Linked DNA regions of Homo sapiens: region 1 is linked to region 2. The links come from fine-mapping of genetic effects on gene expression. Tissue or cell type: whole blood. Region 2 holds a variant in brackets; the other region holds the start of a gene. All regions are shown on one strand. Distances are from middle to middle.

What was found. PIP is the estimated chance that this variant, and not a neighbour inherited with it, causes the effect.
Region 1: NCOA4 starts here. The variant in region 2 is fine-mapped to the expression of NCOA4 in whole blood (TOPMed, PIP above 0.99).

Annotation. Positions count from the first base shown.
Region 1 is chr10:46,028,184-46,032,346 of GRCh38, reverse strand. NCOA4 (nuclear receptor coactivator 4) reads left to right here and starts at 1,724. Exons shown (of 10, transcript NM_001145263.2): 1 at 1,724-1,821. LOC105378287 (a long non-coding RNA gene) reads right to left here and starts at 1,572. Exons shown (of 3, transcript XR_945923.4): 1 at 1,480-1,572. RefSeq lists an enhancer at 1,679-1,748 and a silencer at 2,109-2,198.
Region 2 is chr10:46,096,647-46,100,809 of GRCh38, reverse strand. No RefSeq gene overlaps it. Among named protein-coding and RNA genes, the nearest start is that of MSMB, 52 kb to the right of the region's middle. RefSeq lists enhancers at 3,437-3,731, 3,457-3,751. The variant A/C (reference allele first, on the strand shown) is at 1,549.

The DNA of each region.
Region 1 (4,163 bases), 68 kb after region 2:
AAAGAACATCTGTTCACTCAACAGGTCTGTACTGAGCACCTGGGCCAGGCAGTGCTCTAGACCTGGGGATACAGCAGTGAACCAGAGAGATTTCAGGAGAGAACCCTGTTCTCCTGGGGCTTGGACTCAGCTGTGTGTACGTGACAGATCAGAAATGAGCAAACAGTCATCTGTTGAACAATCAGTGGGCAACTGATAAAGAGCTTTATTTTCCCCTGTCCCCTATCTGTTTAAACATGCTATGTGGGCCAGTTGAGCAATCTAGACAGGTCCCTTAGCTTTCTTGTTCACCTTCAGATAATTTAAAAAAGTGGTCTGAGTTACATTTTGAGTTACACAAAGTCTCATTCCAGGGGCTGCATCTGAATTGAGAGGGAATGGGGGACAGGAGAGTTAAGGGCTCCTTCTGCCTGAGGTCATGTTCTAGGCTGACTTCCTCATGGGACTTTTGTGGGCTTCTCTCTCCACAGCTCCCCTTCCACTCACAGCCTATGACTGTTATCTTAGCTTCTGCATCGTAATCTATGTCTCCTATTGTTTTCTAATGAGGTTGCCTTGCCCCTTGTAGCAGAGTCACTCTTGGATGAGATCCATAAAACCCTGCTATGATCACCTCCTTTGCTGCGGAATGTGGGGAAGCAGTTGGCAACTGAGTATGGAGGACCTCTGTCAAAACTGAGACAGAAAGAAGTGCTATTTAACATCTAGTCACAAGTAAATAATGTGGGTTATAATCTGGGCTGTAGGCTGGACGTGGTGGCTCATGCTTGTAATCCTAGATCAGGTGGGAGGATCGCTTGTGCCCAGGACTTTGAGACCAGTCTGGGTAACACAGCAAGACCCTGTCTCTACAAAAAAATTTAAAAACCGGGCATCATGGCGCATGTCTGTAATCCCAGCTACTCAGCAGGTTGAGGCAGGAGAATCGCTTGAACACAGGAGGCAGAGGTTACAGCAAGCCGAGATTGCGCCACTGCGCCTGAGCGACAGAGTCAGACCCTGTCTCAAAGAAAAAAGAAAAGAAAAAAAGAATCTGGGTTCTGCCATTTATTTATTTACTCAATTTTTTTTTTTTTTTTTTTTGAGACGGAGTCTTGCTCTGTCGCCCGGGCTGGAGTGCAGTGGAGCGATCTCGGCTCACTGCAACCTCTGCCTCCCAGGTTCAGGCAGTTCTGCCTCAGCCTCCCGAATAGCTGAGGCTATACGCGCGAGCCACCACGCCTGGCTAATTTTTTTGTATTTTTAGTAGAGAAGGAGTTTCACCGTGTTAGCCAGGATGCTCTCCATCTTCCGACCTCGTGATTCGCCCGCCTCGGCCCCCAACGTGCTGGGATTACAGGCGTGAGCCACTGCTCCCGGCCTATTAACTCAATCCTTAGAAAAACAAATGTGGCAAAGGTGGAATCATACAACATATGGCCTTTTGTGTCTTACGATATTCATTTTTGCATCTGAATGTTCAAACTAAATAATATCTACCTTGTGAGGCCATCTGAATCACTTAGGATGGTCCTTGGCACCAAATTTGCCTTCAAAAAAGCATTTGCTTCATTTAATTTCGATTTATTCACGAAGGACTAAAGGACACTGCAAGGGCGGGGAGGGAGTGTGCGCCTGCGCTCTGCGCCTCCTAGAGGGCAGTCAAGGGCTTCTGGCTGACCCGAGCGGAGATCTCGCGAGACTGTCAGACGTATGGCGAGAGGTGTGGGAGGAAGATTGTGTTGTCGCGAGAACTCTGCCTTTGGGCCGTAGGTTAGTGTGGGGCCGTGTCTCAGTCCACCCAAGGTCTCCTCGGATCGCCTGGAGAGGCACTCGGACCTGGTAAGAACGCTGTGGGCCGGGTGGAGGCTCGATGACCGCTGGCCCGCTGGGCCCGGGCTTGTCCGCCCCTTCCCGACCCGACCGACACCGGGACCGGTCTGCCTTCTCCTTCCCTTCCCTCCCCTCCACACGCCAGGCCCGGGCACCTCTTCCTGCCTGCCCGCCGGGCCCGGGCCTGTCTTCTCCCCTTCCGGCCACACGCCGGGCCCGGGCCTACGTTCTCGCCTTCCCGCCACACGCCGGGCCCGGGCTTGTCTTTTCCTCCCCGACCCTCCTCGTGCCCGGCCGTGGGCCTGTCCTTTCCTCCCCGACCCTCCTCACACCCGGCTCGGACACCTCCTGCTCCCCGCCGGCCTTCCCCTCTCTTTAGGTGTGACAGCTCCAAGTTTCCTGTTTCTCTCGCCTCTTGCTTGGATGTGGGGCGAGGCGAGGTCTGTTTTGCCGGACGGGCACAGAACATAATCCATTTCTAGCTTGTCAGGTGGAAATGCAAAGAAGATATTGGGTTTTTTTGGCCCTCTGTGTGCCAAACACATACTGTCACATTTAATTCTCCCAATAATCCCGAAAAGTAGCTTGATTATCTCTGTTTTACAGCTGAGAAGAGTAAGGCTTGCTCATTCATTGGTTCATTCCACCAGCAATCATTTATTTGGTGCCTGTATGTTCAGGATGTTGAGGATAGCAATGAAAAAAATGGACACCTAATTCTCATGGAACTAAATTCTTGTTGTGGGGAAAACAATAATCATAATCTTACGTGGCACGGGATTTAACATGGAATGATGCCATCAAGAATGGCAGAAGTAGAATGACAGAAGTCAGAGTGCTGAATTTATCTGACCCCAAAGGCAGAGCTTTTTTACTTTTAACTGTGCCTTTTTGTGTCACTTTCTAATCAGGGTCGGGTTCACCACAGTAATTGCCTTTTGGATGGACTTAGCTTTCCACCACGCACTTGGTAATTTGGAACTAAGTTTATAGAGACTCTTGAGTTACTTATTGGAATGAGGATGGCACAGGAAGTCATAGTTGGCCCATTTTTATACCGAGATCCTAGTGTGACATTTCCAAACTTTAAAGTACTTGAGACCGTTTGAGAAAGACTTACCCTAAGGATGCAGTGGCTTAGGCAATTTACTTGGTTTTCTCATTTGAAGATTTGCTAGCTTGCAGATTTGTTCAGATAAGTAAATGAGATTATGTATGTAAAGTCCAGCACAATAACGTTCCTTTCATTTTCTCCTTTCCTGCCTTCCAGGGAGCCTTTGTCCTTGGGTCTCTAAGGAAAATCCTACTCTTTGAAAGTTTTGTGGTAGTTTTTATCTAAATAAATCTCTACAATTACATTATTACCTTTGTGCAAACAGGCATTTCGGAAATGGAAAAACATGTTGAGCTATGGAAGGGGAGGAAGATGTCCTTCTCAAAGGGAGAGAAGATATTTTAGAACTACATAGTACCCCTCACCCCCCCCTTTTTTTTTTTTTTATTAAATCAGTATAGCTGTGCCAGAATCTCAGGATCCGGTGTAGGGGTTTCATAAAACTCCATAGGATATCCTGACACATATCCCTCCCCCGGTTGAGAGTCCCTAAGTTAGTGTTTTATAATACTTTCCCTCACATAGTGTTAGCATTCAGAGCCAGTCATTGCTGCTGCTGATGGACTTTGAACTCAGTCTCTTATTTCAAAGAATTAGTATTTTCTGCTTGGTTGGTGAATCTATGACACGAGTTCTCCTCTAGGTGGCAAGCTCACCATTGTGTTCTCAGGGACTATCACAGTAGTGTCAGTTTAGGTACTCAATAAATAGTTGTTGGATGAATACATAATACCTTAATACTTAATGATTCCTTCAACATACCAGGTGTGGTTAGGGACTTTGGACTCAGATCTGGGATTAAATCTTGGCTCTTCTACTTGGGAGTTTGTGACTGTAGGTAATATATTTAACCTTGTCAAGTCTGCTTTTTTTTTTTTTTTAATTAATGGTGATGATAATAGCCACTTTAATGAGGGCTAATTGAGATAGTGAGTTTTTTAAAAAAAGGCTCGGCACATAGTAGACTAGATGTAAATACTTACTGAATTCATTTACTCAGTAATTAATTGTTGAACACCTACTATACAACAGTGAACAAAAAGACAAAGTCCCCGCCATGTGGAACTTACCTTCTAGTATGTTTTCTGAAGGGAGATCAGAAAATAAATGGTTGCTACGTGCCAGACTGTGGTTAGTACTATGGAGAGTAATAAAGCATATTAAGGGGGATTGGAGGCAAGACTTTTAAAAATAAAAGATGGTGAGGAATGGCCTCAATGAGAAGATGACCTCTGAG
Region 2 (4,163 bases):
CAAGATGGTGAAACCCCATCTCTACTAAAAATACAAAAATTAGCTGGGCGTGGTGGCGGGCACCTGTAATTCCAGCTACTTGGGAGGCTGAGGCAGAGAATTGCTTGAACCCAGGAGGCAGAGGTTGCAGTGAGCCGAGATCACACCACTGCACTCCAGCCTGGGCAACAGAGTGGGACTCTAGGCAACAGAGTGAGATTCTGTCTCAAAACAAAACAAAACAAAACAAAACAATAAAACAAACAAAAAATACCAACAACAAAAGAAAAAAGAAAAAGAAAATGACAAACAACTGGATTAAAATGAACACCTTTTGCTTTACTAAGAGACAACAAATAGAGTGAAAGAACAAGCCACACCATGCAAGAAGATATTTGCAACAATTGATAAAGGATTAGTATTCAGAATTTAAAGAATGTGAATGAATCAATGTGCAAAAGACAAACACCCAAATCAAGAATGGACACAGAGGCATGAATAGGCACTTCACAAAGGAGGGAACATGAATGACCCAAAATCCTGTGAACAGATGAACAACCCTTTAGTAATTAGGAAACTGCAAATTAAGTCAATACTTTTGTCTATTGATTAGACATCAAAACATAATTAGAAATCAAAAAATATAAAATATGGCACTACCAAGAGTCATGAAGGATGTGAAGAAAGAAAACCTAATATGCTTTCGGAGGAATTACACCAACTTTACCCATTCTAAAATACCACTTGTTTAAAATGATCCATTATTTTAAACACCACTCCAAAGCAAGACAAAAAACCCCCAAAGTCCACTAACCCAGTGCTTTTTACTACTTGTAATTTTTTTTTTTTTTTTGAGAAAGAGTCTTAGGCTGGAATGCAGTGGCGCAATCTTGCAATCTGCAACCTCTGCCTCCCAGATTCAAGTGATTTTTCTGCCTCAGCCTCCCAAGTAGTTGGGATTACAGATGTGCACCACCACGCCTGGCTAATTTTTGTATTTTTAGTAGAGATGGGGCTTCACCATGCTGGCCAGGCAGCTCTCAAAATCCTGACCTTAAGTCATCTGCCAGCCTCAGCCTCCCAAAGTGCTGAGATTACAGGCATGAGCCACCCTGCCTGGCTATCACTTGTAATTTTTCTGTTAAATATGTTGAAAGATCTATTTTAGACTTATTGAAGAAAGATTTTTAATCATATATCACTTCTGCATACAAAAATGAAGAAAATAAAATTAAGGTATTTCTAACTATCACAGTCTAACTTTCCTGAGTCCAACTTGAATCCCATCATCAGTGCCCACATTTTTCCACACATCTCTGCCATTCAAAGCGTTGGTCATACAGCAGTTTTGACACTGGGATATGAACTCATCCACACTCCTGCCCTAGAGAGGGGGCCTGTGTTCTCTCCCATTGACTTTTGGCAGCTGTGACTGCTTGGACCAATAGAGTACAGTGGAAGTGACACTATGTGACTTCCAAGGTGATATCATAAAAGGCTCTACAATTTCTACCTTGCTCACTGGAAATACTCACTCTTGGAGCTCTGGGCCACCTGTAAAAACCCAAG[A/C]ACCCTGAAGCTGCCATGCTGGGAGGAAGCCCAGGTCATACGAGGAGGCTACATGCAGGGTCTCCATTCACAGTCCCAGCTGAGCCCAGCTTTTGGGCCCTCCTGCCCAGGAGCCACACTTGTGAGTGGAGCAGCCTCCAGATAATTCCAGTGCCCAATCCTTCAAGTCATGGGGCCCCAGACATGAGGAGCCCTCCTAACTCGCCCTGAGTGCCTCATCCTCAGAACCTGTGAGCGTAATAAAATGGGCCTGTTCTGTGTCTCTAAATGTAGGTGGTCTGTTACACAGCAGTAGAGAACCGGAATGTCCCTCATTCACAAAGACTCTGGCAACACCACAGTTTCCATCTCCTTTCAGATCTGCCATCTCCTGGGGGACTTCAGTGTCACACAAATAACCTCCCATTGCCAACACTCTGGCCTCCCAGTCCTTGACCTCCTCATCCACAGCAATGTCCTCACCTAAGTCACCTGGGCTAACTCTTCCAGTGAACAAATGGCAGGGTCTAGTGGTTTTAAGGGACCCTGTGAGGGCTGTTATAAGGGAAATGGAGGCTTCCTCTTGTAGCCCCTCCACAGGTCCTGTGCCTCCCCCTGGTGTTGTCAACATGCAGGACATTGGGAAGAGCTGCAGTTCGCAAAGTCACCATGTCAGCCTTCCTGTCAATCACAATAGGGAATTCATAACAGAGTTGGGGTGGGAGGTGGGGAATTGGCATCACTCACCCTGGCTTCTGAGCTGGTGCCTCCGGCTTTTCACCAGTACTTGATTCTGTCTCAGCCCAAATAAGCGGATGTCCTTCGTCACCTACTCCACGGACAGCAACACCGTCTTGCCGGCTCACCTCAGACAAGTGAGTGCTGCTTTGAGCCCTAAAGGGAGGCCTGATGAACTGAGCCAGAGGGACCTCCAGGGAGCTGAGGGGCTCCCAGAGACCTTGGCTGGGAGCCTGACAGCACACAGGGCAGGCCGGTCAGGGCAACTCACAGTACCCACCCTGACCTTAGCCCCGGCTCCCCTGCATCCTCCTACCCATGGCTGCAAGGTTACCTGCAGGCCCCTGTGCTCCAGAAGTTCTCAGCCTCCCTACTTCACACTCCCCTGCCCTCTCTCTGCCCTGCCTCCTTCCCTGGGAGGTGGCTGTGAGGATTCCCGGGGTGCAGGGGCTGGCAGGGCGGGGGTGTGTGTCCTTTGAACACACACCTTTGCTGGCTGCTGCTCTGTGCCTGTTCCCCCTGCCCTGACCAGTGCAGGAGGGAGACAGTGTCAGAGCCGGTGGTGAGAGTCGTGCGACTTTAGCGCAGGGATGCTGGCAGGCCCAGACGGGAGTCCCTGGATGGGGTTCTGAGCTCCAGGCCAGGCTGGGAAACTGGAGGGAGGTAGGAGGAGCAAGCTCAGGTGGCTTGAGGTGGCCTAGAGAGGTGCCCAGGCCCAGCAGGGTACATTGCAGAGTTCCTGTTTGGCGGGAGGTGAGAGCGCTTCCAATGCACATGCCCAGAACTGGGCCCACAGAAGTTGAAGCGCAGGAGAGAGGTGAGGACACTGAGTACTGGATGGGGGCCTGGACCCCACTTGCAGCTTCAAGGGGATACAGGGTGGGCTGCCGCATCTTGAGCTAGGGGGAGGCTTGGATCTGTGTGTCCTGCGCTGTGGGTTTGGCAGAGAGACTGGAGTGGGTGTGAGGTGGTAAAAAGCAAGTCTATGGGGGAGGACTGTGGCGGGTGACCCAGACGGGGAGCCGGGTTTGGGCATGGCCTCTTCTGGGTATGGATGGACCTGGCCTCCTCCCCTCCTGAGCTGGGCAGGCAGGGCTCTCAGAGCTCCGGCCATGGCAGGGACTCTCTGCCCGCAGTGGGAAGCCAGCCTTCAGGGTCCATGCTCTGCCCAGCCTTGCTGTGCAGGCTCAGCCTGTCACATTGGATTAGCCTGACCCTAAGTCCCCAGCCTGTCCCAGTCCTGCCACCAGAGCCAGTTCTGGCTGCCCCAGCCCATTTTGTCTGTTTTAACAGCAGCTGACAGGCTATATCCCCCAGCCAGTCTGCAGATCAGTGTTCAGACCGTGCATGCACAGCCATCAGGGCTGCCTCTCCAGCCTTTGGTCTTTTTGTTTCAAGGGCACAGGAAGTCAAAGAGGCCAGGCAGTCTAATTAAGCAGATTTGGTATTTCCTGTAGCAGGGTAAAGAGAGAGGAGGAAACTGAATCAGGTTCAGGAGTCTAGGGCCATGGGGGCTGGGTGTAGGGTTGGGGGCTTAGCAGGATGACTTTTCCCAAATGCAGCCCTACCTGTTAAAGGATCGAGTGTCCAACACAAGAGAACCCTTGTTAGGGTTACGGTTTGGGTTAGAGTTAGAGTTAGAGTTAGAGTTAGGAATGTCAACCCCATTGTCAGTGGCAGACTCTCAGTTGCCCATCCCCGGTTCAGGGTTAGGGTTAGCATGAAGATTAGAGTTAGAGTTAGAGTTAGGAATGTCAACCCCATTGTCAGTCGCTGACTCTCAGTTGCCCATTCCTGGTTCTGGCTTAGGGTTAGGGTTAGGAATGTCGGCCCCATTGCAGTTGCTGACTCACAGTTGCTCATCCATCGGAAGCTCCCACTGTCACCAGAGATGGTCT